4 linked regions of the Homo sapiens genome follow. The protein of the gene in region 1 interacts with the protein of each later gene in a pairwise test. Each region holds a gene or a part of one and is shown in the gene's direction. Other genes may lie near its edges. The genes, in order: MET, SH2D1A, SH2D3C and SH2D1B.

Region 1 (8,286 bases):
GTTAGCCAGACGTGGAATTGAATCTTGGTTCTAACTGTGTGATTTTAGCAAGTTTGCTTATCTAGAAGAGAAGGATAATAATACTTCCTTCTTCACAGGGTGGTGATGAAGAGTAAATCAAAGAGTTTAGCAGAATGCTTCCCATATGGTAAGCACTCAATACATGTTCTTGTTATTTTTATTATTACATGGCTTTGCCTTACTGAGGCTTCATCTTGTCCTCTGGTCCAACTACAGTTCTCTAGCTTGGCTTATCCCTTCATAACCTGTACCCCCAGTGGCACGATCTTGGCTCACTACAACCTCCGCTTCCCAAGTTCAAGCAATTCTCCTGCCTCAGCCTCCCAAGTAGCTAGGATTACAGGCACCTGTCACCACACCCAGCTAATTTTTTTGTAGTAGAGATGGGGGTTCACAGTGTTGGTCAGCCTGGGTTCAAACTCCTGACCTCAAGTGATCTGCCCACCTCAGCCTCCCAAAGTGCTAGGATTACAGGCATGAACCACCGCGCTCAGCCAGGAATTTTCATTCTTTATCCTCCTTTGAGACTCGGCTCTAGCATCATTTCCAGTCGAGTTGGTCTCCCTTCCTCTGCATTCTGATAACTGTTAACCATCAAGTGACTTGAGCTTCCCAGGGAAGGGCATCATGTCTTTGTAGACATCCAATAAATGTTAGTAGAAGAAAGGGGGGTCCTGCCAATAATCATATGTCTTTCCCACAATTTAAACTCCTTTTCACCCTGTTACTACTTTTTGCTTGTCTTCCCTTTGATAAACATTCTACTTCTTCATCACCCATTCCCTCAATTTAACATCTGATACTACTATAGAAACTACTGCCTTGAAGATCAACAAACGGGTTCCATGTGGACCAACGTCCTCCTTGAGACCCTCACTTGGCTTTTGTGACACAGTGCAATATTTGCTCTCTTGATGCCTCACTGACCTTAACCTTCCTTGACTCCTGCATAGATTTCTCAACTGTGGGTATCCCCTAAGATTTAGGCCATTTGCCTTCTCTTCTTTCATCTAGTCCATTCATGAACACACCCATTCCTGGTTTTAACCATCACCTCTGTGCAGATAATGTGCAAAGTTTATTTCTAGTCGGAGTGGAGTCTCTGTTACTCTGCCAATCAAGTTCTAAATTTTTATTCCTTCTAGTGCAGCAGTGGCAAATACCTGACACTCATGTGTCTCACTCAAGACAGATACTGTTTCACCCAAGACTGATCATGCCGCTTTCCCAGTCAAGGCAGGCTTCTCAGAATCCTTCTCATTTCCGCCTCTGTTCTTTGGCACTAATGCTCTGTCTGCCCAGAGTTTTCATTCTTCACTTGTTCCAGGCACCTGCTTCCTGGTGAATAATGTAAAACCTGCTAGTCATCCTTATAGGAGAATATGCACTCATTTCCCAGCAGCACACCCGACTCAACGTGGTTAAAACCAATCTACCATTCCCATATATTCAGCCTAACTTCCCAGTGCAGTCTACCCTAGTTTTATAACTTGTTCTACTTTTTCCAGATAACTGCTAATCATCTTTGTTTGTCTTTGCTTTCTTTTTTGCACTGTGTTTGATATATTAGGGTATCAAATCCTACTTATTCAAATATGTCCCTTATTCATTCCTTCTATCCTTGGTGCTACCATATTTGTTCTGGCTCTTGTTACCTCATTATGGGATATAAAAATAGCCTGTCAACTGGTCTTTCCATTGCCAGGATCTCTCTGTTCTAAGCCACCCTGCCTCCAGATCAATCTTCCTAGAGTAAAACCTTCATTGTATGACGGTCTAGCTCAAAATTCCTTAATGATTATTAATCACCTCTTAAAGTCCCCAATTCTTAGACTATTAGTAGGGTAAAATTATTTTTGATTTGGAGTCAAAAAATTTTGGACGCAAATTTTGGCTACTACACTTAACCATTATGTAACTTCGAATTTCGGCTTAATTTTTATTCATCATTTATTCAGTATCTATTTGTTTAACACCTTCTGCATCTCAGGCTCTGTACTAGGTACTTGGGATACAATGATGAGCCAAGCAGACCTTGTCCTTGCTCTCCTGGACCTCACAACATGGTGAACTTGTCTCTATTGCTCATGATCATAATAATCCTAAGTACAGGCTGTGCTTTTTTCCCTTGATACTTGTAGCTTTTGGTTTGTGCTATGCAGGGTATTGTAATACCATTTGCAGTGCCACAATAATCAGCATATATGTGTTATCACTCAGCCACATTGCAGCTTCACTGAAGGGCAGGGGCTATGTCCCATTTCTCATAGCGCAAGCACAGTGCCCTGCACATACCAGCTGCTCAGTGATTTCTGATGTGGTTTTTGTAGATCCAGGGTTAGTCTTTGGCAGTCATGATGCCTAGTATGTTTTTAGAGGCTCCCTTTGTCCTATCAGAATTATGCTATTTAAAAAAAAGTCATACCTATTTAGTTTATATTCATTCTAAGGCCTCTCCTTTCCAACCTACTACCCTGCCTATAACTATTATAAGGAGAACTCACAATGTTTATAACTTGTGCACCTTAAGTTTTAAATACTGAATAACAGGCCCATTCATGTTTCCTCATAGAAATACTGTCTATATGCATACAATGAAATGTTAAAATAATGTTCTTTTTACTAAATAGCTTTTTGACTTGGTAATGAACAATATGTTGTTTTTCCCTGAGAAGTAGTTCTAGGACTTTAGTTCTGAAGATTATGTTGTATTTTATACATTTTCAGCCTCCTGTTTTTCAGTTCCCAGTGATCTTACATTAAACATTTGTCTGTCTAAAACAATAGGTTAACTATAGCCAAATTATAACCATACCATTCCTCTCCACACAAAATCCTATAAACAGCATGTGATCATATTGCTTCTAGAATTTATGATTGTTTTCTTCCAAAAGGAAGCTAAATTTAGCCTAGTAATTCTACATGCGCTCAAGAAAACAATGCCTGCTGTGATTTCTAGAATAAATGAATGTGAACCACAGTTCCTTTACTTGACTAACAGAGAAAGTTTAAATATCAACCTAGTCATTAACCACAGTTATTAAACCACGTTAAACAACCAGCAAGGGGTTAAGAAAGAAAGTTGCTATGTTTTTTCTTTCATTGCTGAATGAGTCTAACTTAGTTACTGTATCAACCTTAATACAGAACATTGTTTGCATCTCAATGGTTCTCTAAAATTATTCGTTCATGGCTTGAGTTCTAAAATTAAACTATGTGGAGTCATGTCCAACCGCACAATGCATCTTTATGTGAAACTTGCTAGAGTTTTTGTTTTCCTTCTATGTAAAAGTCCAGTTGGGAAGCTTTATTTCTGATAGATTAAATGGTATAGGTCTTTCAGTTTTCTCTTCATTTCTGACAACTGAACTGCTCTCGCCTTGAACCTGTTTTGGCAGATAAACCTCTCATAATGAAGGCCCCCGCTGTGCTTGCACCTGGCATCCTCGTGCTCCTGTTTACCTTGGTGCAGAGGAGCAATGGGGAGTGTAAAGAGGCACTAGCAAAGTCCGAGATGAATGTGAATATGAAGTATCAGCTTCCCAACTTCACCGCGGAAACACCCATCCAGAATGTCATTCTACATGAGCATCACATTTTCCTTGGTGCCACTAACTACATTTATGTTTTAAATGAGGAAGACCTTCAGAAGGTTGCTGAGTACAAGACTGGGCCTGTGCTGGAACACCCAGATTGTTTCCCATGTCAGGACTGCAGCAGCAAAGCCAATTTATCAGGAGGTGTTTGGAAAGATAACATCAACATGGCTCTAGTTGTCGACACCTACTATGATGATCAACTCATTAGCTGTGGCAGCGTCAACAGAGGGACCTGCCAGCGACATGTCTTTCCCCACAATCATACTGCTGACATACAGTCGGAGGTTCACTGCATATTCTCCCCACAGATAGAAGAGCCCAGCCAGTGTCCTGACTGTGTGGTGAGCGCCCTGGGAGCCAAAGTCCTTTCATCTGTAAAGGACCGGTTCATCAACTTCTTTGTAGGCAATACCATAAATTCTTCTTATTTCCCAGATCATCCATTGCATTCGATATCAGTGAGAAGGCTAAAGGAAACGAAAGATGGTTTTATGTTTTTGACGGACCAGTCCTACATTGATGTTTTACCTGAGTTCAGAGATTCTTACCCCATTAAGTATGTCCATGCCTTTGAAAGCAACAATTTTATTTACTTCTTGACGGTCCAAAGGGAAACTCTAGATGCTCAGACTTTTCACACAAGAATAATCAGGTTCTGTTCCATAAACTCTGGATTGCATTCCTACATGGAAATGCCTCTGGAGTGTATTCTCACAGAAAAGAGAAAAAAGAGATCCACAAAGAAGGAAGTGTTTAATATACTTCAGGCTGCGTATGTCAGCAAGCCTGGGGCCCAGCTTGCTAGACAAATAGGAGCCAGCCTGAATGATGACATTCTTTTCGGGGTGTTCGCACAAAGCAAGCCAGATTCTGCCGAACCAATGGATCGATCTGCCATGTGTGCATTCCCTATCAAATATGTCAACGACTTCTTCAACAAGATCGTCAACAAAAACAATGTGAGATGTCTCCAGCATTTTTACGGACCCAATCATGAGCACTGCTTTAATAGGGTAAGTCACATCAGTTCCCCACTTATAAACTGTGAGGTATAAATTAGAAATAAGTATCAGTCTCAAAAAGAATATCCAGGGCTTCTTTTGTGCTTTGTAAATGGTGTTTATCCAAAATAGTTGCAGATTTTTTCCAAGAAAATTGAGGAATTGAATCTTCATTTACACCTAAAATTATATCTTTAAAATGTAAATGGTAACTAAAAGAAAAATGTTTTTACAATTCAGATTTGCATGTTCGTGACATTTCAGATTATATTAAAGTTATTTCCCATATAAGCTTTTTTATATTTACACAGATTTTATCAGATTTACACAGATTTTATCAGATTTACACAGATTTTTATCACAGCAGCAATTCCCATAAAACATAATTATTGACATTTCTATATAATCTCTGCAACATTTACAAGATGTTCAAGCTAATTTGTATGCCTTAAAGAATTGTTCCTTATGAGATTATATTCTCTCACTGATACACAACTGATTAATCTATATTCTTGACATTACTTAAAGGAACTTAACTTTAAAAAACCTCTTCTGAAATGCTGGTAAATAAAACATTTTTAAATGAGCTCGTATACTTCTCTAAATAACCTGTAAGAGTAGAGAGGAAATGTTTGTTCCCAAGTCCTTCCTTTAGAGCTTGACTTTAATCATGGACTTCCTTCTGGAAAAGACTTGTGTCTACCAAGTTCTAGCTTGGCACTTTACCTGGTTGGTATTTGTTATTTATAAGCATAAATATTTTGGTTGATGATTATTTATACTTATATGAAATGGTATTTTCTTAGGAGCTGTTAGAGATATTCTTGGTGCTGTGATTTAAATATAGTAACAGCTACCAGCTATACCTGGAGATTTATCCTGCTAGTCAGTTGATCACCTGGTCTGAGTGTTTATTGTGGCTTTGAGTTTCTTGATCTGGGCCAGATTTGGAATACGGACCTGACTATGACCATCATTGAATGAACAAATAGTATAGCTTTTCTAAAGACAGTTTGACTTTGGCATGGTATGTTTCACTTACTTTAACAGGTTTCAATCTAAGATATAAAGGTTATAATTGCAATCAGGTAGAACATTAAACATGTCCTCAGTAGCATAAAGTATATAATTTGCTGAGGGGTAAAGGCATATGAATTCAGAGACATTTGGTTGACTTTTGCTGAAATGTCTGGGACACTTCTCTAGATGGAAACTATAGTTAACTTTTTATGATGCTAGGAAAATACTTCCAAGAAAGTCAGTTCATCTTTTGGTGAACTAAAAACAAAACTTCCTTCCTCTCTCTTCCAAAGTCTATGAATATACATAACATAAATGCACATACATTCCAACTAAGACTTATTTCCCCCTACATACATTTAATATATGTTGCAAAGAAGCAATAGAATTCCTTATGAAGCTCCCCCTTTTCTTTACTAGAAACTACAAAAGAATGAAAGGAAACAAAATGATTTTCAGAAACCTGGGATTAGGAAATAAAAATATAATATTAATAGCATTACAGAGAAGATATTTTTCTGCATCCAGTAAGTTGATTCTGAGACACAAGTTTTAAAAGAGTCTATTAGGAATTCCTCCAGGGCTCCTAGAGCACATGGATTTGCTATTTAAATCTTTCTTTGTTAAAAATTAAAAAGAAGGGTAGGGCAAGAAAAAAATTAAAAAGAGAATTCATAAAGGTATATTGATATCTCATTTTTTAAATTTTGTACATTTCAATCCTTAGATGTAAAAATACTTATCAATTCTAGAAATTCTCAAAACACATCTGAATTTTATCCTACCCTTTTGACTTTTTTAGTGTTCCAAGGGAGACAAACAGACAGGATTAGCCAATGAAATTCAGGTCAGTTTTATCGCCCAGGAAAAATTCCCAAAATGCACTAGCCACACCTGAAACCATTATCACTCCCATCACAAAAATTCTTGCGGGAAACAAGATGGAACTTGCCAACATAGTCTTCTTACAAAGGAAGCCAACTTTTACACTGGCCAAATTCCATAGACAAATACCTTCAAACCTCCTCTATTTATTTGCCTGTTTATCTTCTCTGGTTACAAAGATCAAAATTCTTCTGAGACTGAGACTACACATATTCTCTCTCTCCATATACCCCATCCAGACCTCAGATTGTTCCAATAATGAGCATATAATCATTTCCTAGCTTAATGCCAAAATGAAGGCACCTAGAGCCATTCATCACACACAAAAAAAACAAAATGATTACAAGATCAAAGCTGTTTAGCAGGACTCTCAAGCAATAAGATGACTCCATTTTGTCTTGGCAGATTTACTTGGCCAGAAATCAAGTGACCCTTTTAATAATTTCTTGGAACTGAGTTTTTACTTTGGCATCAAGTTTGGTGAAAAGACACACATATTGTAGTTTTGTTATTAACATCTCTAATACATTTATAAAGGGACTCTTGTGGACAAGGTTAAGAAAGCTGAGCTGCAGCAGTAACTTTCTACTTATGCTTCTGCCCAGTCCTCAGTGTTGACACATTGCTGAAAGAGGGATTTCCTGGCACTCCAAGAGCTCTCCACCATGTGCAAAAAGTGTTTCTATCACAAGATCAGATAATGGGAGTGCCAGGGACGGGCCTTTTACATTTTAGGGGTCCAGCAGGTGTACCAGGCCTGACTTGCTTGTTTAGGATCACATATTTTGTTGCTTTTCCCAGTCTCACATTTCATGAAATATGTCTATGCAAACTCTTCACATGCATCTTCTCATATTGATGACATCACAAAAGCCCTCTTTTGAGTCATTTGATAATTCCCAGTACTCGTCATCTTCACCCATAAGCTATTTGTGCTTCAGAACTCTTTGTCTCCACATATGATGCTGTTTCTGGAAACTTATCCCAAGCCACAAATGCCCACTTATAGAATACCAGTGTTGTTGACTATGTCAGTTGTTCTATAAGAATATATTCTTGATCCTCACAATGTGTCCATTTTTTATGTTGCTTTTGAAAGTGATTCTAAAGAATTTGTTTACAGTGACTTCCAATATTGAGTACTATGAGATTATACACCCACAAATAATTACTAAATCTGTTTAATATCTTTACCTCCTCCTTTACCCATTCATCAATCAACCTCTATAAGCATCCTAAATTAGTATTGATTGAAGTTGTTTTAGGCTAATGCATATTCTCTAAATAGCATATTATTATTCAAAATAAAATAATTGAGAAAATTGTCCCATAATATGGATGGAACCTTTGTAAAGGCCCATATGTAGGGAGAAAAAACCCTCATCTCTATTTGAGGATAAGCAGTAGCAAAAATTTCATTAACTTGTTTAAAATTAAGTGGAATTTAATTTTAAGACTGTGGAATCTCTAACAGTCTTTTACATATAAGGGATTGATTAATGTGACAATTTCAGGAAAAAAAGGAGAATCAGTACACATTGGCCCAATCTCCTACAAATGAGAATCAATACAGAATAAGAGAATTTTTTAAATCCCCAAATCAGCAAAGATCCTGTTCCCTAAGTTATAGAATATTTATTAAAACAAGTGAAATCGTACATTTTAGAAAAAATTTTAATCAAAGTTGAAATTAGAAAAGCATTCTTGAAATAGCTCTCGCCTCTCAGAAAATACAATTAGCACACAACACTGTTTTTCTT
Region 2 (8,904 bases), on another chromosome or scaffold:
CTGTCGCGATCCAAAGGCAACTGGTTGATGAGGCCAAATAAGTACATGATGATTTATTTGTGTGTCAGGTGCCAAGGTGTGGGATGTGAAGAGTTATATCTATAAACCAAAATGAGGCAGACCACAGGGTAGACGTTGGTAAGTGATGAATGTGAAAGAAGTCAATGTCAGAAATGATATACTTCTTGAGGCAAATTAGAAGCCACATTCTCTGCAGAGGGTTCTCTCTATAAAGGGAAAAAAGAGGGGGAAAGGAAGGGAGCTAACTAGGTGCCAGGTACTCTTTTAGGTTCTGGGTGTGCTAAGAGGAATATGACATCATCTCTGTCTTCCGGGAGTTCACAGGCTAGTAGGAGAAAATAATATTGTGTATTTGTTAGGCTCCAGGCACACCGCATATACCATCACATCTATCTTCATGGAAAAAGATAAAAACTAATGAGGAGTGGCCTTCATTTGGTCTAGAAAACATTCAAAAAGGAGAATGGGGTGATAAGACCTTATCTGTGTATCCAGGTCTTCCCAGGAGAGAAAATATCCGTATCACTTTAAAAACAAAACAAAACAAACCAACCAAACCCAAACTACTCAGTGTTCTGTTACTTTGGATGGATGAGCTTATGATCCTGTTTCCAGACCCATAAACCCAGGAAACAAAACTTGACTGTGAACTGAAGACCCTTCCAAGACATAGTAAATAAAGAGAATGAGGCTAAAATAGTATATCTGATTTGATAAGACATATAGTTATATATAGACATGCTATGAGTCAGGGCATGGGACCAGTTGACACTTGAAATGTAAGAAGAATATTCTAGAAGTCCAGATTACAGTCGCTAGATAGGAGACTGAAGCCTGAGCAATCCAGTGCAGTGACCTCAGAATTAATGTTGGGAGGCAGAAGAGGATAGTGGTGAAGTGCACAGGCTCTGCAGTCAGTGGCCTGTGTTCATATCCTGGGCCTGACATTGACCAGTTGTGCCACCTTGAATAGGCTACCTAGGTTCTCTGGGTTTCAGTTTCTTTGTCGGTAAAATGAGACTAATAATAGTATTTGCTTCACAGGGTTGTTGATATAAATAAATGAGATAATACATTCAAAGTGCTTAGCAGGATGCCTGGAATATAGTATGCAGTTAACAAATATTAGCTGTTGCTATTATTCCGAGAATGAAACCTCAGAAGCATGCAGAGTTTCAGCTAGAATGAGGGAACTTCCTTTGAGTCACGAAGGAGGCAAAATTCGTGCAATAAAAAAAAAAAAACCTGTACACAGCAGACAGAAAGATAAAAACACTTTCCATCTCGAATAGATTGTGCGAGTTAGAATATAAGTTGAGTTAGATATGCCACTACTATGTCCCTAGAGCCCCATCCTTTCCTCTATCTCAGCTCTTGTTAAGTGAATTATAATTGTCTGTTTGCTTGTCTGTCTTCTTCACTGGACCTATGAGCTACTTAGGGGCAGATACTGTACTTTTCTGTAACCTAAGTACCTACTATAATGTCTGGCATATGGTAGATGCTCATAAGTGTTGGTTGAAATAATAAAAATATTTAAGACAGGCTTAAATAAACACACACAACAACCCTGTCTCTGGCTTCTCACTTAAAAAGGGCATTTAGAAAGATTGGCCTCATAGGTAAACCCAGAGATTATCAAAAGGAGGTGCTCTTTTGTAAAAAAAACAATTTTTTTCTTTAATCATTTTTGTAAAGGAAGTGAATTTTAGTAAGTGCTGAGAGAATGTGTAAACTCACCACAGGTAACACTGTCATAACACTGTCACAGGAGAATTCACACCTATAAATGAGCTAGTGGAAGAACAAAGTTAGTTTTGAAAGGTCAGAGAAAAAGATTTTGAAATGTCAGAGCCACTCTATAAAACTGACCACCCTTGGCATCATTCTTTTAATCTACCTGGGTTTGAGAATAGCCTAGGGCATTTGAAATGAAGACAATTAGCACCTCAGACAGGGCTTCCACATGCAAAATTCTGTCACCTCTCAGAGACCTCAGGAGTTGACAAGTTTGGTTAAGAAGATACTTTCAACCTTGGCTGGCAGTTTTTCTAAAATTTCAATGCTTTTATAATCTGATTTAAATGGCATCTATATTCTAAAAGGTTGTAACTGTGAAGCTCTCTTCCTCCATTCTATGATTTTCCCCCTTAAGTTATTGTAAAATGTCAAGAATGAAAATATTTCCTTTATTGAGGGAGATTGAGGAAACAGGTCTTTGTTCTTGTGCACAAATAAGTTCAATTCATTTCCCCTCTGTTTCTCTCTAAAACACATTTGGCTTTTGTTTAGAGAATAGAATGTTAAACCTAGACGTGACCTTAGGGGTCATCTGGTTCAATTCCATTTGACAGATGGAGAAAATGAGACTCAGAGAGAAGTGATTTAGTGGCAAAACATGGCATATATTTCAACTCTCCTACTTACTGGACTACTGCTCCTTCCAATTCATCTTGTCATTTCAAAGACGACCATAGGCATGTAGAACCAATATTGTGTGTGTGTGTGTGTGTGTGTGCGTGAGTGTAAAAGAGAATTTCAGTATTTTTTCTTTTATTGAGAGCATTAAGTTCATTCATTCATTCATTCACACAACAAATATATATAGCACCTACTACTTGCCAGACACAGGATACAGTGGTGAGCAAAGTACACAAAATCCCTCCATCATGGACCTTACATTCTAGTGGGGGACACAGACGATAAACCATTAATTAAATAATTCTGCTCCTAAGTGGTTTATACTTGTACTTGGGGTCCATTCTTCCTAACTCTTTCTCTGTTGGTGCCTCTACTATCTCCATTGCTCTCCTCTTTCATTTTCTCCCATTTCCTCTCGTGTGTATGGGGAGAGAAGGAAGAGAGTCATTTCAATTCCTCTTTTCTCTACGCTTCAAGCTCAGTGTGAAGTTTTGAATTTGCTAAAGTCAGGTTTAGTACTGGTGTAGGATTAGAGTGAAGATGTCAGTATTTTTCATCAACACTGCACTAGTGGGCTGGCTCGGCTGGCTCAGCTGTCAGCTTGCTTGTAAGATGACAATGAGGTACTGGATGTGAAAGTTGTACTATTACCTTATAATTTATCTGTTTTTTAGTGCAATTTTAGTTGTGCTGAACCCCGTCATACCTGGCTGCTTTGACAGGTGTGCTATTTTAGCAACATGGAACAAAACAGAGAAAGAAAAAAAGAGTGCATGGTACGCTTGTGCTGTCAGATCCAGGTTGCTCTGTTCCTAAGTTTATGGATGATTTGTTCAGAGTTGTTAAGAGACAAAAAAAGGTTAGGTTTTGTTTTCACTTATGTGACACTGAATGTTCTCACAGTTCACCTCACAGGTCAGCTGTTGCTCATATGGACTGATATAAAGGGATCCCTTTCCCTGTCTCCTTTCTATTTGAAATTCCACCATTTTGATTAATTCCTCTGGGCTAACCATTTGCCTGCTCAATATATGGAGAGCCCAAGGTGGACAACCTTTCAAATCCTTAATGTTGGAGTATGCATTCATATATCAGATTAATTTCTTCCTTGATCCAAAGCATGAAAAGGGGTAAGAGGTGGAGTTGGTCAAAAACATGTGAGGAAGGAAGATGATAAAATAATATTGGTCCCATTCCCCAGAGCCATCCCCAAATGTCACCTTGAATGCTTTAAAAAAAAATTCTTAATGCTGAAAATGACTAGTAGGAGACTTATGTTTATACTTTGCATACTAAGGCTGGACACTCTTCAATCAAGAAGAAAAGTTGCTACCAGCTACCACTGAAATCTTAGAGGATTGTTCTTAATCCTAGTAGATGAAGAGCAAATATCTGCCTTTGGTGCAAGTCAGCTCTGTACATCCAATCCATTGGTAAGACATGTGAGGAATTAAGTGTCGTTCTCGCTATTGAGTTCCCAGCCTTGCCATATTCTCAAAGAACTACACACTGAAGTTGCAGAAAGCATATAATAGACGACATAGCTTCAGTTATTTAAATTCAAATTTTAAAAGTACTTTACATAATCTAAAGGTACATGTACAAGACCATTCAGCTTCAGCAATAAATAAAGTCTTACTCTAGTGAAAATGCAGGAAGCTTTGCGGAAATATTACCTAGCACATTTTGAAATAGAAGCAATGTTTTATTTCAGAGAAGAAAATGAAGGTTGAAAGGTTTTAAAATATTAAAGACAGTTTAGCCTCAATCGAAGAAATAACATTTTCTAGAAACAACAGAGAATAAAAGTTACAACAAAATTATCAACAACTTGCAAATGATTCAAAACAGATTTTATGGACAAAATGCTGAAAGGTGGGCCCTGTACACCAAAGGGCACATACAAATCCACATAAAGGCAAAGCACCAGTTAAATGATTCACAGTCTCATCTAAAGCCCATCAAATAGATACATCTGGAACATCTTTGGATGTACATTGTGACTTTTGTATCTCAACTAGCACTTTGGGACCTTGGACAAGGTGTTAGGAAAGAAATCAATATTTGCTCAGGATCAAGACTTCTCAAGATGACTGCGTGAGGTAGAAGGAAGAGGGAGAAGAAGAACTTGCCCAGAGTTCACTGTTCATCTACTATGTCTGATTCTGTAGGAGTCTTCATGGCCATGTTCAGTAATGATTGCATACTGACAGTACTGATAAAACTATCAGTGTTTTGTTCTCAGAGCTCTTGGTCCTTTCATTTTGTCAGTGTGTTTTTGCCCTACGTAGTGGGTCCACATACCAACAGAGACATGTACAACTTGCCTCTATCATCAACTCCTTATGGGCTAGTTGAGCTAAGTTATTCCTGGTGGCCTCTGAGTAAACCGCAAGAACAGAAGCATTACTAAGCATCCCCGTCTGAGTGCAAGGGTGTGTGTTGGCAGTACAGCCCCAATCTTGCAAAATCCTTCTTCCAATGTTCCTCCCCTCTCTGTATGAACCCTGTGTTGGGGGGCAGAAGATGGAAGCCCTTGGCAAGCTCGATCGAACCAAGCTACTAAATTGCTGAGCTCGTTTTAACTGAAGTGTGAGAAGGAGGTTTAAGGCAAGTAGACAACATCCTGTTGTTGGGGTGCTTCTCTCTTTTTTGCACATCTGGCTGAACTGGGAGTCAGGTGGTTGACTTGTGCCTGGCTGCAGTAGCAGCGGCATCTCCCTTGCACAGTTCTCCTCCTCGGCCTGCCCAAGAGTCCACCAGGCCATGGACGCAGTGGCTGTGTATCATGGCAAAATCAGCAGGGAAACCGGCGAGAAGCTCCTGCTTGCCACTGGGCTGGATGGCAGCTATTTGCTGAGGGACAGCGAGAGCGTGCCAGGCGTGTACTGCCTATGTGTGCTGTGAGTATGATACGGTGGACATGGGCCTGCTGAGGGTGTGGGCGGTGGGCAACAGCAGCTGGGGCCAGGGTGGAGGCCGAGGCAGGCAGGGGCGCCGGCGTTAGCAGCTCGCCGACGCCTCCTCCGTGGCCCACCCTCAAGTCCAGCCCAGGGCCGTGGTGGAACACACTTTCGCCTCAATCCCTCGCTGGGGATTTCATTCCCTGGGCCTCCTGCTCTCCAGAAGGCCCTCACCAGAGCCTTTTGGGGCAGCTGCAGAGAATGCCATTTCGGGTGGTGAAATGTGGTCCACAGTTTACCTTCGCTCCGGGAAAGACCCAGGCTCCCCACTTCCATTTTGACCCCTATCGGGTGGCGCCCTGCGAGCCTTACTCTAGCTCTCTTTAAACGACTTTTGAAGTGTCATCCCAAAGGAAGAGCATGACATTCAGAGAGAGGAGGCACATTAAGAAACAGAGTCAATTACTTTAAGAATGCAATGCCAGTTAGGTCGAGATGCTGAGAGAGGAGGGGGATGTGTGTCAGTAAAATCACCTCTCTGGATCTGCTGATGTAGCATCCTTTAGAAAAGTAGTGGGGGGTGGGGAGGGGCAGGGGATTTCAGAAATAGGACCCTTCTTGATAAACGTTAGGACTCACAATAGTCTTAAAGGGAATGGAGGGAAAACACCCTTGTTATGATTCAGCTTTGCCATTTGCCTAGGCATGTCTCATTCTAAGGCTTCATTTTGAATCAAATTCATCTGCGTCTTTGCTCCAGGGCTCCGGAGTCAGGCAGATCTGAGACTTTGTCCTGTGCTCGTCAGATGTTAGGTTTGTGACTTGGGCAAATTAACCTCTCAGTTCCCCAGTTTTCTTATCCATTGAATAGGTATCATATTACTGCCTACCTCATAGGATTGTAAGATTAAGTGCCATAATGCAGTAAAAAAATTAGCACTGGGGCCTGACACCTAGTAAATGTTCAATAAATGTAAGCTATTGGTATTATTATTATACCAAAGATATATTATTATTTTATCTTCTCTTTTCAGTTGATTTCTTTTAGGAATCATGGGGGCATTTCTAAGGAAGGACCTAGCTCAGGCATTATTGTCAGCAGGATAAAAAAAAAAATCCATGAAAACAGCAGCCCTGCATTGTAGGTTCTAGACAGAAACCAAATGAGGTTAAATGCTTGGTAGTAAGTTCAGCATCTGATAATACCCCACAAGAGTTTGAAATACCTTATGGGTCAGTGAAGAAAGATTATCCTGATGCTGGTGCTAGAAGATTTTTCACTGTATATTGTTTTTTAAAAACGGTCAAGCCTTGTTTGTGGCAGCTCTCAGGTCATGCTAAATACATTTTTCACAAAGGCTTCAAGGGAAATACGTGGAAGCTATTGAATGTCTTGGGCTTGAATCTTTATGTTTTGCTTATATAATTATTGTTCCCGTGTGGAACCTAGGGAAGGGCAATGAAAACCAGCTAGGATTCTTAGGCTCTTTTCTCATTGAAAGAAGGTGGAGTGAGTGGGTGGGTGAAAGGCGCTGCTTTAGGGAAGCTGACAAAGGAGATAACATGCTCCTTAACCCAAAGGTGAAAAAGAATGTACAAAACAAGTCTGGGCAGGGGAGGGACAACAGGGTATAGTGAGAGGCAAGATATACCTAAGGCTTCAGCCTCACGGGGCTCCTGGCCGTTTCTCAAGCTCCTCAAAAATGCCCCCACTTAGGATTTCTGCGCTTATTGTTCCTTCTGCCCAAAATACCTTCAGTTCACATGTTTGTTCAACTGTCTCCTCCCTCAGAGAGGACTTGCTTGACCACCTATCTAGAACAAGTGCCCTCTCCCTGTCCCTGATACACTCACTCCATCTCTTTATTTTTCTTCAAAGAGCTTTAAACTATCTGATAATTTGCTTGTTTACCTACTTATTGCTGGGCTGTCCTGCAAAAATATAATCTCCATGAGGGCGGAGATACTGTCTCCATCACCAGAAACACAGGAACACATAATAGGCACTCAGCAGATATTTTTGAATTAACAAACTGTCAAGGCAAATTCTGTTCTTTACTGCAATAAACGGAATGGCCATTGAGAGGTTAGGGTATGGACTCTGGGAAAGTCACTCAAATTCTCTGGGACTCAGTTTCCATATTTATAAAACAGGAATAGTAATGTGTATCCTACCTTCTGCAAAAGATTGCCTTAAGTACCTTATGCAAGAGAGAAGGGCAGCTTTAGACTTTTGCCTATGTAGGCCGGAACCACATGAGGAATTAACTTAGGCAGGTGAGAAATTATCAAGCATTTAAGTTTTCGCCCAAAGTGAATCTTGCATAAATGCAGTTTTTATGACTCTTAGTTCTCCATGAAAACCTCCTTGTGAAGTAGCGGAAAATACTAGACAAATTGGGAGTTCCCTTACGGTGTCTTTCAAATGGTACACTGGGGCCTCAAAGTCTTATGTGACTGTTAGGGTGATAGCCAGAATGTGCTGCAGAGGGAAGATATGAGGATACATTGCCTTTTATCAGTTTCTCAATGTTTTTGAGTTGAGTGTCCCTTTTGATAAATGTAAAAATTTCATTCCCTCTTTTTGGTGCTACACTGTAATTATAAAATCAGATTTTATTTAGAAATAAACCACGTACTCATTTTAAACCAGAACACTTATGATATGCAGTCGAAATAACAATATAAGTGGTATCATATACACATGGACAACAAGGTATAGCTGACAAACATGCATTGATTGTAGGGTTTACTCAGAATGGTTTCTCATTCTATCTTTTGTTTACTCCTATTAACCAAGAAGATTTAATTGAGCTATAGTTTTTATATTTTTATTGTAGAGATAATACATTTCATATGCCTTCAAACTGTACTTTAAACTGTACTTTCAAACGATGCTTGCCCTTTTCCCCAGTTCTGAACCTCCTAATCATGGCTTTCAGATATGGCCTTTTCTTCTGTTCTGATTTAGAAAATCGAAAATTGAACTGCTTCATAAAGCACTAAAGGAGTTTTCCATTTATAGGATTGCTCACCTTCATTTTAAGTAATAAGTATTTCTTTCAATTACTTTCTCTAAATAAATATAGATTTTTGTATAAGTCTATTAAAAATAGTTCCTTATACCTATTCATTATAGAAAATTTGAAACATATAGATAATAGAAATTAGAGAAAAATCATCTATAGTTTTATAACCTAAAGATGACTATTGCTAAAAATTAGGTGAATTTTCTTCTATATTTTAATAAGATGAATTGCTTTTTGAGCACGTGTGCTCTTACAATTGTATTCTTACGAGTGACGTATTTGACTACTAAAAAGTTTGATTTTTGTATGCGTCAAAAAAAGTAAGGGCAAACACCAAATGTTATATATTTATATATATATAAATATCTAATATATATAATATATAAATATATAATATAAAATATATAATATATAAATATATATTATATAATATTATATAATATATAATATATAAATATATATTATATATAATATTATATAATATATAATATATAAATATATATTATATATAATATTATATAATATATAAT
Region 3 (7,000 bases), on another chromosome or scaffold:
GAGTGAGGAGCAGGAAACGCGGGGGATGCTTCGGATGCCAGGGTTGGGGCCAGAGCGCCCGCCACCCTCCCGCCCTCTAGGTGGGCTTGGACATGCCTGGGGCGCGGGTCTCTCCCAGCCCAGCTGGCCGGGCAGTGCAGGACGGCGCCGCGGCGGTGAGAGGGTTAAACGGAAGGGGGTGGAGGGGAGGACCCGGACCCCGCCTCTCTGCGGAGCATCCTTTGGGGATGGCTTTGCTTGGGGTTGGGACGCCGAGGGGAGCTGGAGGGGATGCTGGGCTCGGGCTGGCGGGAAGGGGTTAAGACCCTGTCCGGGGGTCTCCGCGCTCCTGCCCCCTGAGCCCCCTGGGAGATGCCAGGCGCGTCGGCTCTTCGCTCCCCCAGGCTCACACACGCTCGCGGAGCCCGCCTGAAGGACTGCCCCGCCGGCGGCGGAGCGCAGCATCCCCGCACCGGCCAATCAGGCGCGCGCAGGCCGGGAGGCGGTGAGATCATCTCTGGCCAATAGCAGGGCGCCGAGCGCAGGGATGCTGCATTCGCACCCCAGCACCCCCAACTCTAGGGAACTGGGGGCTCCCAGGTCGAGGTGAGATCAAGGCACAGGGACCCTAGGATTCCTCACCCTCAGGTGTGTGGGAGGACCAAGTTGGTCCCCCCAAACTCTCCGTGACCAGTGATTAAGCTGGAAAAGGGGAGCCCAGTCTCCCAGCCCCTTTAACGGATGAGGCTGCCCAGGCCCAGAGAGGGGAAGTGACTGGCTCAAGGTCACACAGTGGCAGCCTTGGGGCGGTTCTTCAACATCCAGCCTCCTCCCTCCTTTGCCCACGTCCCTCTAGCTCCAGCTGTGGAACTGGGGGAAGGTCTCAATCGCATGCCCTTTGTCAAGGAGGACGCCAGAAGGCTGAGGTCTTGGTTCCCTTTTTCCCTGTGACGCCCACTCTCCCCTTTCCAGGGTTTGGTGTGATATGAGGAAAGAGGACTAGCCTGGTGTGAGCACCGCAGAGTGAGAGGGAGAGAGACCAGGGACCCCCAGAAGTAGGGGACCCCTTGGAGAAGTGTAGGTGTCTGAGAAGGCCCAGATCCTAGCCCAGCCCTGGGCCTCTCTGCCCTTCGGGGGCATCGGTTTCTACCACGGCCGGAGGATGTGCAGAATTCCCACTCCCAGGCCCCGCCTTTCTCCTGAGCACCTGTGCAAACCGCCCACTCCCACCATCTGTCCCCAGAGCCCTGCAGGCTCCTCAAGGTCCAAATTTTCATGGGTCCACCACCAAGCTGCTCCTGCCCCAGCCTTGCCCACTCAGAGCATGTCCCAATCATCCTTCTAGGATCTCGGCCAGGAGTCCTCTCTGACCCCTCCGCCCTGCTCCCCCACATGAATCAATGGCCATCTAAACTCCCTTTCCCCCACTCCTTCTGCCCACGCCTTATCTGCCCTGCCACTGCCTGGAAAACCCTAGGCTGCTCTCCATAAGTGGACTAAACCTGCCCCAACACTTCCAAACCCCTCCATGGCTCTGCTGTGGCCTCCAGATAAACCCCAGCTCCCTGAGGCAGCCGTGCCACACCTGCCCCTGCCCCCACAGCCCCTTGGAAGCTTCTTATTCATCTCCCCTCCCTCCCCTTGGCTCTGCCCGTAGGACCCTGACTTTGCCGCTCTCTCCCCAGAAGCTCTTCCCTGTCCACCTGTCCACCTGCCCTCTCCACCCTGGTGCTTTTGCTTGGCTCACCCAGTCCTTCAGACCTCAGCAGAAACACCACCTTTTCAGGGAAGTGATTCCTGACTCTGCCCCCTGACTAGTTTGGTGGTGCACCATCTCTGTGCATCTCGGGACATTCAGGAAACCTGGAATTGATTGTCAGTGTCTGCAAGGCCTCCCCCAGGGCAGAGGCCACCTTGGGTCCTCAGCCCTGGCACAGGACCAGGATAGGGACCTAGTCAATGTTGAATGGAATCAGAGATTCTAGATATCTCTGACACTGGGAATCATGGTGTCTTGGGAGCAATGCAGACTAGGCTAAACCCAGGCAGTATGGGAGCAGAGGGGTGAGGGATGTAGCCACAGAATTAGGAGGCGAGATCTGTGGATAGTCTGAGGAGGCAGGGAGTGGACTGGAGGACCTTCGGACTCTCAGGAGCGAGGGGCCCCAGGGAGAGACTCACCTGGGATGAAGGCCCTTTACTGCCCTCCCTCATCTGTCCTGCCTTCTGGCCAGCGCTGGGGTCTGTCTGTCTTGGAGTAGCCATCTTTGGGGCCTGGAGGTGGGGGAAGGAGAGGAAGAACCATCCCATGTCCTCGCAGTGATGAGGATGTCCATGTGCTAGTAGTACTCTGGAGTGCTGTCTCTTTTCATCTTCGCAGTGAGGTGAGGCAGGTTCTGTCACTGTACCCATTTTAATGAGGAAGAAATTGAGGCCCAGAGAGCTCACAAGGCACAGCCAGGATTGGGCTGGGCTCTGGTGGGCGTACACCTGGCATTAAGGGCTTCCTTTCCTCTTCCCTTAGGGCCCCTGGGATCCATCAGCCTCCAACTTCAGGCCACAGTAATCAAGAAACCAGGAGTTTCTGGGCCAGGTGGGAGGGTGGAGTACTGGACATTATCTCCCTCAGTGGCCTTGGGCTTCCCTGCTGGGCCATGGTCTCCCCATCTGGGTGAGGATTGCTGAGGATTTCAAGGGAGAAATGGCCTTGGAAATTGTAAGGGGCAATGCAGATGTCTGTTTGGGGTCCCCGTGTCCCTGTTTATAGTCCCTTCCCCACCCTTGCATTGTAGAATGCACCATCCCAGAACGTATCCTTGTCCAACCAGTTCTGTGGTTTTGTTCATAGCTTTTCCTGCAGTTACCTGCTGCCTTACCTCCAAGATTCACCTGTAGAAATCCCCCTCCAACACTTCAAGAACAGTTTGGTGCCCTTGGTATATAATGAGTGTTTTCTTACTGCCATCTCCTCCAGGAAGGCTTCCGAGACCCCTCTGTCGTGCCCAGGCTTAATCCCGCTTGTAAAAGCCACCCGGCTCTTTGCCGCTGTCCAGCGCTGTGGTGCTGACCGCACTCTACTCAGAGGCTCCTGTTGCTTTTGCCTCTCCTCAGACTAGGCACTGCCTTGAGGGCCGGGCTTGGTTTATATATCACTGCATCCACCCCTGGCATATAGCACAGGGCCTGGAATGCAGCTGGCATTGTTTTGTGGAAGGAATTGAGATTTCTTTACTCTTTCTGGGACCCATGGGAAAGGGTCTGGCACCTGTGCCTTAGTGTTCCCAGAGTCCCAGGATAGGAGGAGTTCATCCATGGTAGAATGAAGTTGGGAGGGAAAGAAGAAGGAGACTTTAAGTTGGATGCCAACTCTTGCTGTTTTCTACCCAGTTCTCCAAGGAGAAGTACATCCTGGACTCATCGCCAGAGAAACTCCACAAGGAATTGGAGGAGGAGCTCAAACTCAGCAGCACGGATCTCCGCAGCCATGCCTGGTACCATGGCCGCATCCCCCGAGAGGTGAGTAGGCCCCGAGCTGGACTTCAACCCGGGACCCTCCCACCCACTGCCTTGGCCAGCCCCAGCCCTGGCTGCAGCCACCTGGGAGGCTCTGACCTGTTGCTTGGTGGATTCAATCAGAATGGACTGGGATGAGGTCTAGCTCTGCCCTTTACTGACTGTGTGACCTTGAACAAGTTGCTTCACCTCTCCGAGCCTCAGTATCTACTGCAAAGGGGTGTTGTGAAAATTAAACGAAATAATGCAGGTAAAATGTTTAACATGATGCTTGACACCATGAATGTTGGCCTTTGTTCTTATTATTATGCTGTTATTGTTACTGGTCTACATATCTGCCTTTTGTATGTTTGCTTAGTGAGTACCAATCTTTGGGCTACTTAGTTTTGGCAAAGTTGAGTTTCTTGGCTGAGGTGACTTTATAAGCCACAGAATTAAGTTGATAGATCACTTGTTCCTTCTTTCATTTATGCTATGATCTTTGCCAAACACCAACTCTGCCAGGACCTGTGCTAAGCACCAAGGGTGCAGAGGTAGAAAAGGTGGTGGCTTCTCTTGATGGCTAATGGCCCAGGGTGGGGGACTGACAGGCAGGATGACAGTCAGAGCCTAGTGGAAGAAGTACAAGAATAGAGTGCCTGGTAAGAATATGGGCGAGTCCCGAGGAGGGGACACTGAGGATGGAAGCCTTTGTGAGGTGGATAGGAGTTCACCAGGTGGGGCCAGGTGCGATGGCTCATGCCTGTAATCTCACCACTTTGGGAGGCTGAGGTGGGCAGATCACCTGAGGTCAGGAGTTTCAGACCAGCCTGGCCCACATGGTGAAACCTCGTCTCTACTAAAAATACGAAAATTAGCCAGGCATGGTGGCATGCACCTGTAATGCCAGCTACTCAGGAGGCTGAGGCAGGAGAATCACTTGAACCAAGGAGGCGGAGGTTGCAGTGAGTGTGCCACCTCACTCCAGCCTGGGTGACAGTGAGACTCCATCTTAATAATAATAATAATAATAATAACAATAATAATAATAATAAAGAAGTTCATCAGATGGACAAGGCAGGAAGGGTGTTCCAGGACAAAAAAGCAGCTTGAGGGTGCAAGGGCCAGAGGCATGCCAGAGCACTGGGTGGTTGGAAGAATGAGGATTAGGAATTCACTCTGCCCAACCGGAACCCTGAGAAGGGATGGGTCTGAGACCTGGGTCTCAGGTCACAGCCATTCTCACTCCTCCAGACCCTGGGCCTCTGTGCCTCCCATTCCAAGGTGTTGGGTCCTCCCATTCCTGAGCCTCTGTGCTGCAGACTCAGGGCCTCTGGCTGAGGTGCCCCCTGTGAACCTGGGTCATTGCATCCCCGCTCTCAGATGTCAGATGTCTCTGTTCATTGGGTCCTCTATGCCCTGGGTCTGGTCTTGCTGTGCCCCCTAATCCTGGGTTGCTCTGTCCCCCAGATCCTGGGTCTGACCCTCTCCTGGCCCCACCCTACTCCAGCCTAACCATGCCTTCTGCAGGTCTCGGAGACCTTGGTACAACGCAACGGCGACTTCCTCATCCGGGACTCACTCACCAGCCTGGGCGACTATGTGCTCACGTGCCGCTGGCGCAACCAGGCCTTGCACTTCAAGATCAACAAGGTGGTGGTGAAGGCAGGCGAGAGCTACACACACATCCAGTACCTGTTTGAGCAGGAGAGCTTTGACCACGTGCCCGCCCTCGTGCGCTATCATGTGGGCAGCCGCAAGGCTGTGTCAGAGCAGAGTGGTGCCATCATCTACTGCCCGGTGAACCGCACCTTCCCACTGCGCTACCTCGAGGCCAGCTATGGCCTGGGACAGGGGAGTAGCAAGCCTGCTAGCCCCGTCAGCCCCTCAGGCCCCAAGGGCAGCCACATGAAGCGGCGCAGCGTCACCATGACCGATGGGCTCACTGCTGACAAGGTCACCCGCAGCGATGGCTGCCCCACCAGGTCAGCCAGGGCCCCATTTGTCAAATGGGGTTGTGGGTAATGAGAGGGCTAGTGAGAAAGAGAAGGCCTAGGTACACTGAAATGGGATGAAATTACTCTCCTGGAGCCTCTGTGTGCAGGGAGGAATGGGAGGAAGGTTGGGCCATACTCTGTGGATGTACAGAACACAGGGCTTGCAGGGAGTCAGACCCAGGTTGCAGTCCCAGCTCTGCCACTCGCTGGCCATGTGCCCTTGACCCTGTCACCTCTCCTCTGTTATCCCCATGTTCCTACCTATAAAGGCTTTCATTCAAGCAGCCCTCCCTACCCCAGGGGAGCCCTGAGTCCTGAACCGGAGAGGGGCCTGGTCCCCGCCACCTGATGCCACCCCTCCTCATCCTACCCAGCTAGGCCAAGGTGGGCATCTGAGCAGAGGGCTTTACAGCATGCAAATCACTGCACAGGGAATGGGATGTTCTCAGCAAATTTTAATCACACCTGGTTGTCTCCGGGGCTAAAATCAGGCCCCAGATGCTGGGAAAAGCCACAGCAGCTGACGGTTCCTGAGATCCTACTAAGTGTTAAGTGCTGTATGTGCCCAATCTCATCAACGCCCATTTCCTCCTGGGAGGTGGGTCCTGCCCATACACCCAATTTGTAGATGAGGACATAGGCTTAGAGGGGGGAAGCCGCTTGCTAGAGAGTGGTAGGATCAAGATTCAAACCCAGGTCCGTAGACTCTGAAGTCTGTGCCCCAAGTTTCTGTGGTTTCCCTGGCTGTTTGCAAAGAGATCTGCTGTCCTGTGCCACCTGCACTTGGATAGGCCCTTGAGGCTCTGTCTCCCTGGGGCTGGGTTGGGTGCTCCCAGTCAAGGAATTGATGAATGGATACCCTGTGGGCTGCAGCCACTTGGCCTGTGGTTGGGAACCAGTAAACATAATGGTGTCAGGATCCACGGACCATGTGTGCCTGAGGCATCCTGAGCATAGTTGGGAGCAGTGAGGAGAGGTTGGGATGGTGGGCCCACTCCTTAAGGCTCACTACTCTTCCTGCTAGCCCCTCTCCCCAGACCATTCTCCAGGTTGGAGGAAAGATTCTGCTTATCAAGCTGAGGGCACTAGTGAGGGGCCGTGTCTGCCCAGAGAATGGTTGTAGTTGACTAATTTGCACAAAGGCACCTCATGGGGTAGTTGAATTCTGGCCTATACCCCCTTTCCCATCCTCTCCTCCTTGGGAAAGGAGAGGGACAGAGGAGCTTGAGAAGTGTTGGCTCAGCTGGGTGCCCCCAAGCCTCATCCTCAGGCTGCTCTAAGCTTTGTGGGAGGGGAAGCTGGATAGGAAAGGAGGAGAGCAGGGTCATGTGGAAGATACCGACTAGGAACCGGGCTAATGGCCAAGCGTGGTGGCTCGTGCCTGTAATCCCAGCACTTTGCGAGGATGAGGTGGGTGAATCACCTGAGGTCAGAAGTTTGAGACAAGCCTGGCCAACATGGTGAAACCCCATCTCTACTAAAAATACAAAAAATTAGCCACGCTTGGTAACGGGCACCTGTAATCCCAGCTA
Region 4 (8,473 bases), on another chromosome or scaffold:
TGTAGCAGTGCAAGAATGAACAGGTGGCAAGGCCTCTTGCTGAAGCCCCCACACCACACTGCCTCTCACATAGGCGGTTCTGCCCTTAGAGTCATGGAGATTCCAAGAATATTGGGGTCCCACTATAAAGTATGTTCAATGAATGATGGTGATGCAATGAGTTAGCTCTTTAAGGAGATAGACAAAGTGCTATCTCCTACGATAAGACAGTAGGAATGAAGTGGGAGGTCCTACACTGTTGCCCTCCATCAGGCATCTTTTAACAAGCACAACACAAGCATTTGCCATGCTGCTGTGGTCAGTGATGATCTTGTGATCTTGGGCTTTCTGGGGTTGACACCACACTGTCCAGTTTCTACGTGACTTTTCACTCAGAACAACACTGTGATTCACATTTGGCCTCATGCTTCCTTGGTCTTGAGAACAGAATTTTATCTGTAAGGCTGGATTTATTTGACATCTTTAGTAGAAAATAACAAAAACAAATGCCAACTAGCTTATGACAAAAGGGAAATCTATTAAAATGACAAAAAAACTCAAGGGCAAGCATGTAGCCAGACCTCAGAAATCACTGAATCCTGGAATGAAAACCCATGGAAAATCCAAGTGAGACTATCTTTTGACTCTGCTTTTTTTCATGTGTCCACTTCATTCCTCATTTTGCAGACCAGTTCTCTTCTCCTGACAGCTTGCTGGGATATGGCCACCAGTATACAGTGTAAAAATGTACCTGTTACACAGCCATTCCTAGAGAATTAATTTCCATTCCCATTTCCTACCCATCCCAGCCCCCTACCCTCTTTCTTTCTTTCTCTTTCTTTCTTTCTTTCTTTCTTTTTCTTTCTTTCTCTCTCTTTCTTCTTTCTTTCTCTCTTTCTTTCCTTCCCTTTCTCTCTTTCTTTTCTTTTTCTTTCTTTCTCTTTCTCTTCTTTCTTTCTTTCTCTTTCTTCCTTCCTTCCTTCCTTCCTTCCTTCCTTCCTTCCTTCCTTCCTTTCATCTCTCTCTCTTTTTCTCTCTCATTTCCTTCATTTCCCCATTTTCTCTAAACTCCTGGATAAGGGTTTGTGATTAACTTATCTTAGGTCGGAGGCCTATCCTTGATCAAATCACCCATGGCCAGAAGAATAGGGTCATGTTCTACAAACATAGTGCTAGGTTTTTGTTTCTGTGGATGAGAGAAAGGGGACCCACGCAAGAAATTGAAGATATTCCTGTGTACTGTGGAGCTATTCTTAAAGGTGACATGGGATCAGAATAATATGGGAATGGAAAGATATTTTTACTATTAAAACTTTACAACACATGCAAAAAGAGACATTAATATAATGAACCACACACACAATCACCCAGTATCAGACATAACACTTCAATACGTATCTCTAAAAGTTATATTCACAAAAGCATAATGCCATTGCTACACGCACTATCTAATATCAAATCAATACTTAAATTTCCCCCAGCACTAAATTTTTGGTATTTGGTTTTTTCAAGCCAAGATCCAAACAAGATGTCATCTAGCATTGGTTTCATGCTGCATAACCATCTTTTTAACCTAGAGCAGTTCTCACCCAACTATCTGACTCAGTTTTTACAACCTATGAAGACACCACATTATTTGTTCTACTGAATGTCCCATACACTGGATTCCAAGAGCTTAAAGCTTTTCTCCAAGGAGCTAGGACAAAGGGCTACATCTATATTTGGGCAAGGTTGATCTTTTACTGGATAATATAAATTCAACGTATTTTGATCAACCACAATCATTATTCCTTTGATACTTAAATTTTTCCATATTGGGTCTTATGTCCTTTGACATGACTCAGTCTTCACTGACACACTTATATGTCCCTGGCATGAATTCAGCCATTTCTCTAAAAAGTTCTTGCTTCTTTTATAGGAGAAGTGGTATTTAGAGACCATAGCCTTATCCCTAGGTGTGCTCATTGCTACCAAGTTTTCATTGTTTTAGCTAGGGATTGGCAAACTACAGCCCATAGTGCTGCTTTTACACTACAATGGCAGAGATGAATGGTTGCAACAGAGACTATTGCCTGCAATGCCTAAGAAAAAGTTTGCTGGCCCCTGTTTTAGGCCTTTTGTTGAAAAGCAAGTTGTAAATCCATGCTGATATTTCCAATTCAAATTTAGCATCAAAAATTTTATTTAACTTCTTTGCTTTTATATGTGTATCTCTTTTCTTATACTGAAAAAAAATCTTGATTCTAGAATTTTCCCAGGACTCATCTGTCTTTAACACTGAAAGTCGTAGATACTGGGAAACCCCTCAGACATAAGCAAACTGGTACAGTTGTTTACCTTACTTAGTTCTTAAAATGTTAATATCAGTATGATTTTTGTTTATCTTATAATATGAGTTAAATATATTTAAATTACACCAAATTATCACTAAATTTATTTGCTAGTTTATTTAATGTACAAGATATTTAATTAAAACTGTTCACTCAAATTCTACATTCTAAAGTCAGTTGAAATAATTTTCTTTATGATTATATTACCAAAGTAATGTTCAGTTAGATACATTATTTTAGTTTTTATTCCTCCTTTTAGGAATACCCTTTTACTTGTTTATTTTCAATGTGTAAAACAATTATGGCCGGGCGCTGTGGCTCACGCCTGTAATCCCAGCACTTTGGGAGGCCGAGGTGGGTGGATCACGAGGTCAGGAGATTGGGACCATCCTGACTAACATGGTGAAACCCCGTCTCTACTAAAAATACAAAAAATTAGCTGGGCGTGGTGGCAGGGGCCTGTAGTCCCAGCTATTCGGGAGGCTGAGGCAAGAGAATGGCATGAACCCAGGAGGCAGAGCTTGCAGTGAGCCGAGATCGCACCACTGCACTCCAGCCTGAGCGACAGAGTGAGACTCTGTCTCAAAACAAAACAAAACAAAACAAAAAAACAATTACATGATTCTACATTCAAAACTCCACAGCAGGCTGGGCGCAGTGGGTCACATCTGTAATCCCAGCACTTTGGGAGGCCGAGGCAGGCAGATCACTTGAAGTGAGGAGTTTGAGACCAGCCTGGGCCACATGGTGAAACCCTGTCTCTACTAAAAATACAAAAATTAGCTAGTCATGGTGGCACGTGCCTGTAGTCCCAGCTACTTGGGAGGCTGATGTGGGAGAATTGCTTGAACCAGGGAGGCAGAGGTTGCAGTAAGCCGAGATCACACCACTGCACTCCAGACTGGGTAACAGAGTGAGATTCTGTCTCAAAACAAAACAAAACAAAAAACCAACAACTCTACAGCAAGTTTTACTGAGAGAAGTCTCACCTCTATGCATGTTTCCGCTCTCCTCTTAGAGGCAGAAGTTTTTAGTTTTAATTAGTTTTAGTTTTGTTCTTCCAGTGGGTGTTTCGTTTGTTTTTTAAATATGAGCAAATATTATAAATGTATATATTTATTTATATCCCCCATACTCTATATACTATTGTGCATCTTGCTGCTTTCACCTAAAAATACATCCTGAAGATTATTGCATATCAGCATATAGAGATCTTCCTCAATCCCATTTTATTATTCTATAGTAATATTCCATTGTATACATGAATCACAGTTTATTCACCTGTCCCTCTATTCACAAGTCTTTGAGTTGTTTGTAATCTTTTTCTATTAAAAAATACTACCTTATTCACAAGTCATTTTCTAATTCTGCCTGTGTAGTTTTGTGACAGATTTCTAGAACTGAGATTGTTCTATCAGATGGTGAAGGCATACATAAATTTGCAAGATATTGCCAAACCATCTTTTACTATAGTTGTAACTATTTTTTATTCCAACTAATGATATACAAGATATTCTATTTTCTTTCACCATGACCAACCCAATAAGCTTTCAAACTTTTGATTTTCACCCATATGATAGGTGAGAGTTGTTATCTCAGCATGCAGGTAATTTGCATTTCTTTTATTGTGAGGGTTGGATTTTGAAACAGCAAAAAGGGCAAGGAAGCCCCTGTGATGACCAAGAGCCTGAGCATGCTTTCAGTTATTTCCTCTCTTATGTCAAAAAGCATCTTTACACCACGATTGTGAATTTATTCACAAGAAATACCAAATTTCTTCTTTCATTATTAACAACTCTGTCTTCAACTGCCATAGTTTCCAGAGAATTGAATAATGAATTGTCCAAAACCACAGAAGAAAAGTTGCTATTTGAGAGCATATCTGTCTGATAACGAGTTCCCTGATCAGTGAAACTGCACTATGCCAAATGCAGAGTGGGAATTCCAAGGAAGAACAAAGATCTGTTACAAGGAAGTTCCATAGAAGATACACCCAACTGTGAGTAAACAGCTGGTAAGCAAAGTAGCAAGGTGAAATAAACATCTAGGTTAAGAAGAAGTTAAGATCTCCAGGTACTACGGAGATGAAGAAAACAAAAAAAAGAAGAAGTTAAGAGAAGTAAAGATGAATCGTTAGCACATAGTTCTATTTTCATAGATAACATTTTTGAGATATATATAGTGATTTTCTGTAGATATATGAGTATACCCAGATATCCCTCCCACCTACACCAGCCCTTTCTCCAAAAGGAACAATGCTTGAGGGTGTTCAAATGGCCTTTTTTCACCAGTGGCTGGGAGCCTTAGCCATGGAATGGGCTGTCCTCATCCACAGTGTCCCACTGTTTTTTATTGCCATTAATGTCTTCCATTTTTAGTGTCATTTGATCCACGGAAATCCCACCCTTTCAATTTTCCCATTGTATCTGAGCATATCAATTCTCTCAGCATCCAAATGGTTTTTGAGCACCCAGTCTAAGCTAAGCATAGCCCAATCCTAGGCAACTTCAGCAGAAAATGGGTACCATTACAGCAAAAGCAGCGGTGTGCTTCCTGGAAAGGATACCAGTAGCCAAAGAAGTTGATGATAGTCCATGGTAATATACAAGGCTGCAACACAGTTCCAGGAAGCTTGACTTCAGCATTGCCTCCCTAGCCATGAGCATCACTGATTCCATTGTGTGTTTAAATGTGCTTTACCTACTTCTGTGAGTCACATGTGGGCCATTTAGAGGGTGAAAAGTGTTGGTCATTTTATCACCCCGCCCTCCTCATTTCCTGAATCTTGTGAAGCTGGCTGAGTCCCACAGACCGCTAGAGGAAGAGGTAGCTCCACAGGAGGTACAGCTGCTTACACATCTCTCCTCAGAGCTGTCCCTTGACTTGGGGGTGAATTTCAGGCCAACAGGGCTTCCTGGGATACAAGAGCGTTCTCCATGGATCTGCCTTACTACCATGGACGTCTGACCAAGCAAGACTGTGAGACCTTGCTGCTCAAGGAAGGGGTGGATGGCAACTTTCTTTTAAGAGACAGCGAGTCGATACCAGGAGTCCTGTGCCTCTGTGTCTCGTGAGTAGCCTCATCTTGCACACATCTGACATCGTATGTTGAATGTGGCAATGGCTGCCACACAGTACAGGAATTCATATCCCTCAGTATTTCACTCTGACTTTGGAGTCTCAATGAGTAGAATGAGAAGTAATGGACACTGCCAGGAGAGGAATGTATCTGTCCATGCTCCTCCATCTGCCTGCTCTCCCTGGTGTAAAGGCCCTGCAAGCAGACTCTGCAGCAGCAGGAGGGACATGGTGGTGGTGAAGGGAAGGGCTGCAGGAAGTACAGGGGTACAGAGGGATGGAAAGAAGGTACAAATGTCAGAGGTCCTGTCCTCCAGAGATCTGTTTATTTGGTATGGAAAAGGCTAGGGGTTCTTCAAGAAATTTCAATCTGAAACACTTATTCTGCAGCATCTGCTTGCAATACGTAAACTATAAATACAATCATATTTCACATTTTGTTAGATTTGTGAAGGACTTCAATATTCGTCATTTCCTTTCATCCTAGTAGTCTATCAAGGCAAGCATAAGCAGTCACCATTTCATAGGTAAAGAAACAGAGACCTGAATTTCTCAAATAATTTGTTTGTGTTAAAACTCATTTGGAATTTCCAGAGTCTAAGTTAAACATGAAATTCCAGGCTGGGCATGGTGGCTCATGCCTGTAATCCCAACACTTTGGGAGGCTGAGGCAGGTGAATCACTTGAGGTCAGGAGTTTGAGACCAGCCTGGCCAACACGGCAAAACCCCATCTCTACCAAAAATACAAAAATTAACCTGGTGTGGTGGCGTGTGCCTGTAATACTGGCTACTTGAGAGGCTGAGACAGGAGAATCACTTGAACCCAGGAGGCAGAGGCTGCAGTGAGCTGAGATTGCACCACTGCACTCCAGCCTGGGCAATAGAGTGAGACTCTGTCCAAAAAAAAGAAAAAAGAGTGGCTGGGCACAGTGGCTCACTCCTGTAATCCCAGCACTTTGGGAAGCGGAGGCAGGTGAATCACCTGAGGTCGGGAGTTCGAGACCAGCCTGACCAACACGAAGAAACCCCGTCTCTACTAAAAATACAAAATTAGCCAGGTGTGGTGGCGTATGCTTGTAATCCCAGCTATTTGGGAGGCTGAGGCAGGAGAATCACTTGAACCCGGGTGGTGGAGGTTGCAGTGAGCTGAGATTGTGCCATTGCACTCCAGCCTGGGCAACAAGAGCAAAACTCCATCTCAAAAAAAAAAAAAAAAAGAAAAAGAAAAACAAATTCCAGGCCACAGTATCAAAGAGACCTAGCTGAAGGAACTTGTTTATGCCCAGTTTAGAAAGCAATCCTGAACAGAAATCACTAGAAACCTCCTATCTTTATGTATGTTCCTCTTTGTAAAGTAGGGACCACTGAACCTTTTATTATACCTGTAACAGAAATTAAAATCCAAATGTCTCTTGTTAAAGAAAAAAATTACTCAATGTCACTTGTTAAATTATGGTTGGGAAGACTTTATTCAGGATCATCACAAAGGTACAGGGACCACTGCAATGAGCTCTTGCGGCACAGAAAAGAGACTGGACTCAACTCTGAATCCAGCATGGACAAGTGGGAATTTATGGCCAAGGAGCAGTGTGGCTGTCGGTAGACAGAAAATTACTCGGAGGAAACATCAGGGGTAAAGTGGATTCTGGCTAAACCAGCCTAACAGAATTGTAGCTGAAGACAGGCCCGGGTGATCAGATGTTGCCTGGGGGATGGTGGAGGATGAGGAATCTGATCAGAATCCAACAGTGATCAGATAGCTAGGGTGAGGGGTCCTTGCCAAACTGACTTAGTAGGGTTCTTTGCTAAAACTGGATTTTACAAGGAAGTACACAAATGGGCCTTGGAATAGGCTCAGAAGTCTGATTATAGACAAAAGTGATTGTCATTACTAATAGAATACACAGGGACATATTTCTTTCTTTAAATGGTACTGGAGATACAGGCTATTTCTCTCATATCTACATCCAACAGTACCATTTAAAGAAAAATATATATTGGCCAGGCGCGGTGGCTCATGCCTGTAATCCTAGCAATTTGGGAGGCTGAGGTGGGCTGATCACTGAGGTCAGGAGTTCAAGACCAGCCTGGCCAACATAATGAAACCCCCATCTACTAAAAATACAAAAATTAGCCAGGCATGGTGGGTGCAGTTGTATCCCAGCTACTTGGGAGGCTGAGGCATGAGAATCGCTTGAACCCAGGAGGCAGAGGTTGCAGTGAGCCGAGATCGCGCCATTATACTCCAGCCTGAGAGACAGAGAAAGACTCTCCATCTCAAATAAAATAAACAAAGAGTGGAAAAGATCTGCTTACATGTAAATGGGATGGAGGGCATTTTAGGAAGGGGAGGAGGTAGGAACAGGAGTCTAGAAGTGGGATATTTTAAAGGATTTACATACAAGGTTCCTAAAATGTAGTTTGGAAACCAGCTTTTGGAAAAGGAGGGTGGGATAAGATCATGGAGTTTTAAAAGAATGGTTCTATAGATAACAGGGAAACATGGATGGTTTCTGAGCAGGGAAGTGAAAAGACTGGTGAATTTAGGAACTTCAATTTGACGTGGAGAACACAATGAAGCTGGGAAATGATGGCAACAGAAACTGTTGTGTCTCTGGACGGGAGACGGTGAAGAGCTAGTTGTGCTGGGGCAAGCAGTGGGAAGGGAAAAAACAAGAAGGTGCAAGGACAGACCTTGGCCAGGATCTCAGGGTATATGGTCAATATGGGATTCTCTTCCTTCCTTTCTTTCTTTTTTTTTTTTTTAGACAGGGTCTCACTCCAGCTCCTAGGCTGGAGTGCAGTGGTGCGATCATGGCTCACTGCAACCTCAACCTTCTGGGTTCAAGAGATTCTCCTGTCTCAGGCCCCCTGAGTATCTGGGACTACAGGTGCGCACTACCATGCCTGGTTAATGTTTAAATTTTTTGTAGACATGGGGTCTCGCTATGTTGCCCAGGCTGATTTCGAGCTCCTGGGCTCCAGTGATCCACCCACCTCAGCCTCCCAAAGTGCTGGGATTACAGGCATGAGCCACTGCACCCAGCCTATATTGGGATTCTCTTTGAAAATTGATATTTATTCT

What was found.
Region 2: the proteins of MET (region 1) and SH2D1A interact in binary tests that used the Homo sapiens proteins (3 or more experiments, as listed by UniProt).
Region 3: the proteins of MET (region 1) and SH2D3C interact in binary tests that used the Homo sapiens proteins (3 or more experiments, as listed by UniProt).
Region 4: the proteins of MET (region 1) and SH2D1B interact in binary tests that used the Homo sapiens proteins (3 or more experiments, as listed by UniProt).

The regions. Positions count from the first base shown.
Region 1 is NC_000007.14:116,695,652-116,703,937, forward strand, and holds part of MET (hepatocyte growth factor receptor isoform b preproprotein), read left to right. Parts: intron 1-98; exon of another isoform or gene 99-105; coding exon of another isoform or gene 106-148; intron 149-3,419; coding exon of another isoform or gene 3,420-3,433; coding exon 3,434-4,633; intron 4,634-8,286. UniProt on the Homo sapiens protein: Receptor tyrosine kinase that transduces signals from the extracellular matrix into the cytoplasm by binding to hepatocyte growth factor/HGF ligand. Regulates many physiological processes including proliferation, scattering, morphogenesis and survival.
Region 2 is NC_000023.11:124,341,435-124,350,338, forward strand, and holds the start of SH2D1A (SH2 domain-containing protein 1A), read left to right. Parts: upstream 1-5,128; 5' UTR 5,129-5,208; coding exon 5,209-5,345; intron 5,346-8,904.
Region 3 is NC_000009.12:127,747,667-127,754,666, reverse strand, and holds part of SH2D3C (SH2 domain-containing protein 3C), read left to right. Parts: intron 1-3,366; coding exon 3,367-3,495; intron 3,496-5,001; coding exon 5,002-5,456; intron 5,457-7,000. UniProt on the Homo sapiens protein: Acts as an adapter protein that mediates cell signaling pathways involved in cellular functions such as cell adhesion and migration, tissue organization, and the regulation of the immune response.
Region 4 is NC_000001.11:162,408,789-162,417,261, reverse strand, and holds the start of SH2D1B (SH2 domain-containing protein 1B), read left to right. Parts: upstream 1-5,125; 5' UTR 5,126-5,245; coding exon 5,246-5,379; intron 5,380-8,473. UniProt on the Homo sapiens protein: Cytoplasmic adapter regulating receptors of the signaling lymphocytic activation molecule (SLAM) family such as CD84, SLAMF1, LY9 and CD244. In SLAM signaling seems to cooperate with SH2D1A/SAP.